2 linked regions of the Homo sapiens genome follow. The protein of the gene in region 2 purifies or fractionates together with the protein of the main gene of each other region. This does not show direct contact. Each region holds a gene or a part of one and is shown on either strand. Other genes may lie near its edges. The genes, in order: SLC35F2 and PCDH9.

What was found.
Region 1: the proteins of PCDH9 (region 2) and SLC35F2 purify together in Homo sapiens (affinity purification with mass spectrometry; one large-scale study listed by BioGRID and IntAct). This does not show direct contact.

The regions. Positions count from the first base shown.
Region 1 is NC_000011.10:107,848,582-107,852,402, forward strand, and holds part of SLC35F2 (solute carrier family 35 member F2), read right to left. Parts: intron 1-3,821.
Region 2 is NC_000013.11:67,223,804-67,227,624, reverse strand, and holds part of PCDH9 (protocadherin-9 isoform 1 precursor), read left to right. Parts: coding exon 1-2,220; coding exon of another isoform or gene 2,221-2,283; exon of another isoform or gene 2,284-2,437; coding exon of another isoform or gene 2,438-2,461; exon of another isoform or gene 2,462-3,821.

The sequences.
Region 1 (3,821 bases), on a different chromosome or scaffold from region 2:
AAACAGCTGACTATGAACCAAAGGACACCAAACCTGCAGGCACCTTGGTCTCAGACCTCCCAGCCTCCAGACTGTGAGAAATAAGTGTCTTTGGCTTGGAAGTTATCCAGTGTACAGTATTATTGTTATTAATCTGGCATAAAAGCCCAACTATAAAACGATCAATAGCAGCACACCCTGGTGGGTGCCAGAGGCCAGCCCAGAAGCCCACCAGCTCCTATCCCCTACTTGTTTCCCATGGTGAACCCTAAGGAACCTCCAGGGAACCCCAAGAGCTCCTCCGGTTTGCAAACCACTAGGGTAGGTGATGGGAAGAATCCCAAAAGGTTTTCAGCCTGAGCATAATGCAGTGAGATTTCTTTCTTTTTTTCTTTTAATTTTTTTGAGTAAACTAGTCATATCACATGAGATTTTTGAAAGAGTAAAGCAGCTCTGGATTTTAGAAACAAATGAAACTATCTCAGCTCTGCCTCTCACCAGCCAAGTGTCCTGGGTAAGTTACTTACCTGCTCTGTCTGTCAAAACAGAATAAAAAACCTATTTTTGTAGGATTGTCATGAGGATTGATGAAATATAAGTAGGGTGCCTGATACACAGCGAATTCTCATTTGATGACAGCCATTAATACTCTTTCGTTTTATTAGGCATCACTCTGACTTCTGTGTAGCGAGATGATTGGGGTCGGGGATAGATGGAGGCATGGATGGAAGCTATTACAACAGTCTAAGTGAGAGATGATAAAGGCTTGAACTGAATTAGTCACAATAGGGATTGAGGCCAGGTGCGGTGGCTCACGTCTGTAATCCCAGCACTTTGGGAGGCCGAGGTGGGCAGATCACCTGAAGTCAGGAGTTTGAGACCAGCCTGGCCAACATGGTGAAACCCCGTCTCTACTAAAAATGCAAAAACTAGCCAGGCTTGGTGGCAGGCACCTGTAATTCCAGCTACTCAGGAGGCTGAGGCAGGAGAATCGCTTGAACCTGGGAGGCGAAAGTTGCAGTGAGCTGAGATTGCGCCACTGCACTCCAGCCTGGGCGACAGAGCAAGACTCCGTTTTGGGAAAAAAAAAAAAAAAAAAAGACAATAGGGATTGAAGGGGGAGGTGGACTCTAGGACTATTCTGGAAGCGCTGTCAAGACAGGGAATAAGCACTGACTTCCTTCAAGTCAACCAGAAGAAAGAAGCAAACAAAAGAAGGAATAACCCAAAGGTTGTCTAGAACTGGTCTAGGGGAAGAAGGAGACTACAGCCTGGGGCAGAAAGAGGAACCAGAGGCCCAGTGGAGGGCATGCTGGAGAAAAGCTTTTCAATTCCAGTCTTACCTCTCCCTACAGTACATGTCTGCCCCTTTAACAACTCCCTCCAGTGTTGAGAAATTAATAAAACAGGTTCAGGCTGTCCAGCCAGCAATCATTCCTCACCTACCCTCTCCAAGCTCCTTGGGCTAATGGGCTGTAACCTAGAGAGACTGCCTCCTCCTTCTTTCAGAGCAGCTGATAGGAATAGCTTAATGGACAGTCACTGAACAACAGAAATCAAGGGTGATTCTGTAGTGCCCAAGATTGCTCCATCCTGGGGTGCATCCCCTCCCCTCTACCTAGAGGGACTCAGACCCAAGCCTGGCTATCATCTCGTTCTTCAGCACATAGGGGACATGTATGAGAGTGGTCATCACAGTGATGTTTGTGGAGGCTGGGAGTTGGAAGCTGTCTGGTTGTCTAACACTGGTGGATGGACCACGGAACCACAGAATACTCTGTAGCAGGTAAAAACAATAGACTAAATCAGTGGTTCTCAATTAGGGATGATTTTTGTCCCCGAGAAGACATTTGGCAATGTCTGGAGACACTTTTGAATATCACAACTGGGAGTGGGGGTGAGGGTGCTATACTGGCATTTATTGGGTGGGGCCAGGTATCTACATCTTACAGAACAGCCCCAACAAATAGTCAACTCAAGGCCGGGCACGGTGGCTCACTTCTATAAGCCCAGCACATTGGGAGGCCGAGGCAGGTGGATCACTTGAGGCCAGGAGTTCGAGACCAGCCTGGCCAACATGGTGAAATCCCATCTCTACTAAAGATACAAAAATTAGCCGAACGTGGTGGCAGGTGCCTGTAATCCCAGCTACTCGGGAGGCTGAGGCAAGAGATTCGTTTGAACCAAGAGGGGGAGGCTGCAGTGACCCAAAATCATGCCACTGCACTCCAGCCTGGAATGAGACTCCGTCTCCAAAAAAAAAAAAAAGAATTAGTCAACTCAAAATGTCAAGAAGGCTGAGGTTGATTGGGCACAGTGTCTCACACCTGTAATCCCAGCACTTTGGGAGGTTGAGATGGGTGGATCACCTGAGGTTGGGAATTCGCGACTAGCCTGGCCAACATGGTGAAACCCTGTCTTTAGCTGGGCGCGGTGGCTCACGCCTGTAATCCCAGCACTTTGGGAGGCTAAGGTGGGCGGATCACAAGGTCAGGAGTTCGAGACCAGCCTGGCCAATATGGTGAAACCCCATCTCTACTATAAATACAAAAATTAGCCGGGAGTGGTGGCACGTGCCTGTAGTCCCAGCTACTCAGGAGGCTGAAGCAGGAGAATCTCTTGAACCCGGGAGGCGGAGGTTGCAGTGAGCTGAGATCGCACCACTGTACTCTAGCCGGGGCAACAGAGTGAGATGCTGTCTCAAAAAAAAAAAAAGAAAGAAAGAAACCCTGTCTTTACTAAAAATACAAAAATTAGCCAGGCATGGTGGCAGGCGCCTATAATCCCAGCTACTTGGGAGGCTGAGGCTAGAGAATGGCTTGAACCCCGGAGACGGAGGTTGCAGTGACTGGAGATTGCGCCATTCCACTCCAGCCTGGGTGACAAGAGAGAAACTCCGTCTCAAAAAAAATAAAAATAAAAATAAATTAAAAAAAAAAAAGGCTGAGGTTGAGAAACACACTAGATGAAAAAAACAACATGACTGGGTCACAAACATATAATGCAGAGTGGAAATTTTTTCTAAAAAAAAGGGATGTAATCCTTTATACAATGCCTATTGGAATTAAGGATTCATTCTCAGCCATGCATCCCATATTTTTTGTGAATCTATTGCAAGGTCAGTAATGTAACAATCAGAATATACAATGGCCATAACTAGATATGATTCCTGACTCCTGGAGTCTAGTAGAATGGGCAGATAGTAAATAATTTCATAGTAAAAAGGGGGAAGGGAGAAGAATTTATGGAGACTCGTAGAATCCAGAGTTCCCCAATTCCCCAGGGAACTGCACAAGCCACAAAAGATCCCTAACTTTACATCTTTGTTTAAATAACACTATAAACAATACCCTTCAGCAGGGATACATACCAGCTTGGGATTTATGCTGCATACACAGTGAGAGCTCAATAGATGTCTGTTGATTGGATAAAGTCTGCACAGTTAAGCACAACTAAATGACTCCTTCAAAAATGTCTAGGACTTTACCCTGTGGAAGGCGGAAACCAAAATGAAAGGAGAAAGCACAGGTGTATCCCAGACCTGTTGCTAGACAATAACAAGGAGTGTGGGTGTTGGCCAGGCGTGGTGGCTCAGGCCTGTAATCCCAGCACTTTGGGAGGCCAAGGGAGGTGGATCACTTGAGGCCAGGAGTTCAAGACCAGCTCAGCCAACATGGTGAAACCTCATCTCTGCTAAAAACACAATATTGGCTGGGCACAGTGGCTCACGCCTGTAATCCCAACACTTTGGGAGGCCGAGGCAGGCGAATCACGAGGTGAGGAGTTTGAGATCAGCCTGGCCAACATGGTGAAACCCCGTCTCTACTAAAAATACAAAAAAT
Region 2 (3,821 bases):
CAGCTCCATGCCACTGATGCAGATATAGGCAGTAATGCTGAAATCCGGTACATTTTTGGTGCCCAGGTCGCCCCTGCAACCAAAAGACTCTTTGCTTTAAATAATACTACTGGGCTGATTACAGTTCAGAGGTCCTTAGATAGAGAGGAGACAGCCATTCACAAAGTGACAGTGCTGGCTAGTGACGGCAGCTCCACTCCTGCTCGAGCAACGGTTACCATCAATGTCACCGATGTAAATGATAACCCTCCTAATATAGACCTCAGGTACATTATAAGTCCCATCAATGGCACCGTGTATTTATCTGAGAAAGATCCTGTCAATACAAAGATTGCCCTAATTACAGTTTCAGATAAGGACACAGATGTGAATGGCAAAGTGATCTGTTTTATTGAAAGAGAGGTCCCATTTCATTTGAAGGCGGTATATGACAACCAATATTTGTTAGAGACCTCTTCTTTGTTGGACTATGAGGGCACCAAAGAATTCAGCTTTAAAATTGTTGCCTCTGATTCTGGGAAGCCCAGTTTAAATCAGACTGCCCTGGTAAGGGTTAAGCTTGAGGATGAAAATGACAACCCACCAATTTTCAACCAGCCTGTAATTGAGCTGTCAGTTTCTGAAAACAACCGACGTGGGTTATACTTAACAACTATTAGTGCCACAGATGAAGACAGTGGGAAAAATGCAGACATTGTTTATCAGCTTGGACCGAATGCCTCCTTCTTTGATCTGGACCGAAAAACAGGAGTTTTGACAGCCTCCAGAGTATTTGACAGAGAAGAACAAGAACGATTCATTTTTACAGTAACTGCCAGGGACAATGGGACCCCTCCCCTCCAAAGCCAAGCGGCTGTGATTGTTACTGTTCTGGATGAGAATGACAATAGCCCCAAGTTTACTCATAATCATTTTCAATTTTTTGTGTCTGAGAATCTGCCAAAGTATAGTACTGTGGGGGTAATCACAGTGACAGATGCAGATGCTGGAGAGAATAAAGCTGTGACTCTTTCCATTCTAAATGACAATGATAATTTTGTGTTGGATCCCTATTCTGGAGTCATAAAGTCAAATGTCTCATTTGATAGAGAGCAGCAGAGTTCCTACACTTTTGATGTCAAAGCCACTGATGGAGGACAACCACCTCGTTCCTCTACTGCAAAAGTAACTATCAACGTCATGGATGTCAATGACAACAGCCCAGTTGTCATTTCTCCACCGTCTAATACTTCCTTTAAGTTGGTGCCCCTCTCAGCCATTCCTGGCTCCGTGGTAGCAGAAGTTTTTGCAGTGGATGTTGACACTGGAATGAACGCTGAACTAAAGTATACTATAGTGAGTGGAAACAATAAAGGCTTATTCCGGATTGATCCAGTAACAGGTAACATTACTCTGGAAGAAAAACCAGCACCTACTGATGTGGGATTGCATCGTTTGGTGGTCAACATAAGTGACCTGGGGTACCCTAAGTCTTTGCACACGCTTGTGCTTGTATTCCTTTATGTTAACGACACTGCTGGAAATGCCTCCTATATCTATGACTTGATCCGCAGGACTATGGAGACCCCGTTGGACAGGAACATAGGGGATAGTAGCCAACCCTATCAAAATGAGGACTATCTAACCATCATGATTGCCATCATCGCCGGTGCCATGGTGGTCATTGTTGTGATCTTCGTCACCGTTCTGGTGCGCTGTCGCCATGCATCAAGGTTCAAAGCAGCTCAGAGGAGCAAGCAAGGTGCCGAATGGATGTCCCCAAACCAGGAGAACAAGCAAAACAAGAAAAAGAAAAGAAAGAAAAGGAAGTCTCCCAAAAGCTCTCTTTTGAACTTTGTTACTATCGAAGAGTCCAAACCCGATGATGCAGTTCATGAACCTATCAATGGGACAATAAGCCTGCCGGCTGAACTGGAGGAGCAAAGTATAGGAAGATTTGACTGGGGCCCGGCACCTCCAACAACATTCAAGCCTAACAGTCCTGACCTGGCCAAGCACTACAAATCTGCTTCTCCACAGCCTGCTTTTCATCTCAAACCAGACACTCCAGTTTCCGTGAAAAAGCACCACGTGATTCAGGAACTCCCTTTGGACAACACCTTTGTTGGGGGTTGTGACACCCTTTCTAAACGCTCTTCCACTAGTTCAGATCACTTCAGTGCCTCAGAGTGCAGTTCCCAAGGAGGCTTCAAGACAAAGGGCCCCTTACACACCAGACAGGTAAACGAGCACTTTTACTGGTCTATAAGTACTGCATACAAGTGCCCAGTCAACCAGTATTAACGTGCCAGTATGTCTATTGTTTTGGTCTAACTTTAGCTTAGTTAGAAAGAGGTAAAAAAAAACTTGACCCCTTTTCTATTCCTCTGGGGCTCAGTCAAGAATTTTTAGAACAGCTTTGAAATTTCTGAGTTCTGAGAATATTTTCTCCTTTCAGTTTCCTTCAAATGGCAAAAGATGAAAAGAGAAAATTATTCCAAAATGTCCCAAGATAATGTTTGCTGAAGAAGAAAAAACCTGTCCTGATATGCCAAATTCTGCTCCTGGGGGTTTCCAAATTGACTGCTTCAAGACTTTCACCTTACCTTTTGATCTAAAAAGTCACCTTCAAATCTCAAGTTTTCAATGACTTTTGAAGGTGTGACTGCAATTATGTTGCAGCTATGGTTGCTAAAGGGGTTAATTTTTTTTTTAGTCTCTAAACAGGATAGTAGAATATTAAATGTACATCAGCTGTGAAGCACATGATCGTTGATAGATTGCAACTAAGCCATATAGGAAGTCTTCTCTTTGATTTCAAATTATTTTATTGTAATATATTAAATTCGGTACTTAATAGAAAGATTTTTAGTGTCCGCAGTGGCCAAATACTCTTTCAAAAAAAAAAAAAAAAAGAATGCTTGCTGCCTAATATAACTGATTTAAAAAGAAAAGAATGAATCCATTGTAAATATTCTCTCATCTTAGTAATGCATAAGTGATCTGTCATAACTCATTTTAAACTGTGAAATATGCCATATGAAGAGGGATTAAGAGGCTGAGAAACTCATATTTCAACCAAATCCAGAATTAGTTTTTCTTAGGTCTAATAATTCCTTGTTAATAAAGATTTAAATGCAGCGCTGTCTAATTTATTTCACTGGTGCTTGTCTGTTGCCACAAAATTTGAATATCGATAATAGCCTGTAGATGGCACTAGGGTATCATGTCGCTTGTGCTGGCCAGGTGCCAATCCCGCAGTAGCAAGGAGAAGGGGGAGGGAAGGATCAAGCTGGTAGTACAGCCAAAGATACCTTTTATTTAATGATAGTTGCTCTGGAGCAACTAGCATTTAAGTTCATTCGCTTGCTCTTTTGTGATTAGCTCTCAGCACACCAACTTTCTAGGATTTCGTAATGCTAGTTCTGTCTTTGTCGATATGGAGTTCACCTATGGTGATGGCCCATCTGTACTTGTTTATAAATAAGGAACACATAGATTTTAGAAAATCAAGTAAAGCAAAATTAGTTTGCAGAACAGTATCAACAGTTATCATTGATTAGTCTTTGGAGAATCAAGAGTTTTTATTTTCTGAGGGTGGGGTGAAGTAGGATGTTTTATTGAAACAGTTTCCCCCTTACCAACTATCATTTATTGCTCTGGAAGGACTTAAGGCTTCATGGTAATAAAATATTTATAAGAGTAATTTTGACAATGAGTCATACAGATACTCCCAGAACATCAAGTATAATACATATTACCATACAACTAAAATCTCCATTCTTAAAGTAAAATATTAAACAGTAGAGCGTTTTAAAAGTACAAATATTTACAGCTTAAAT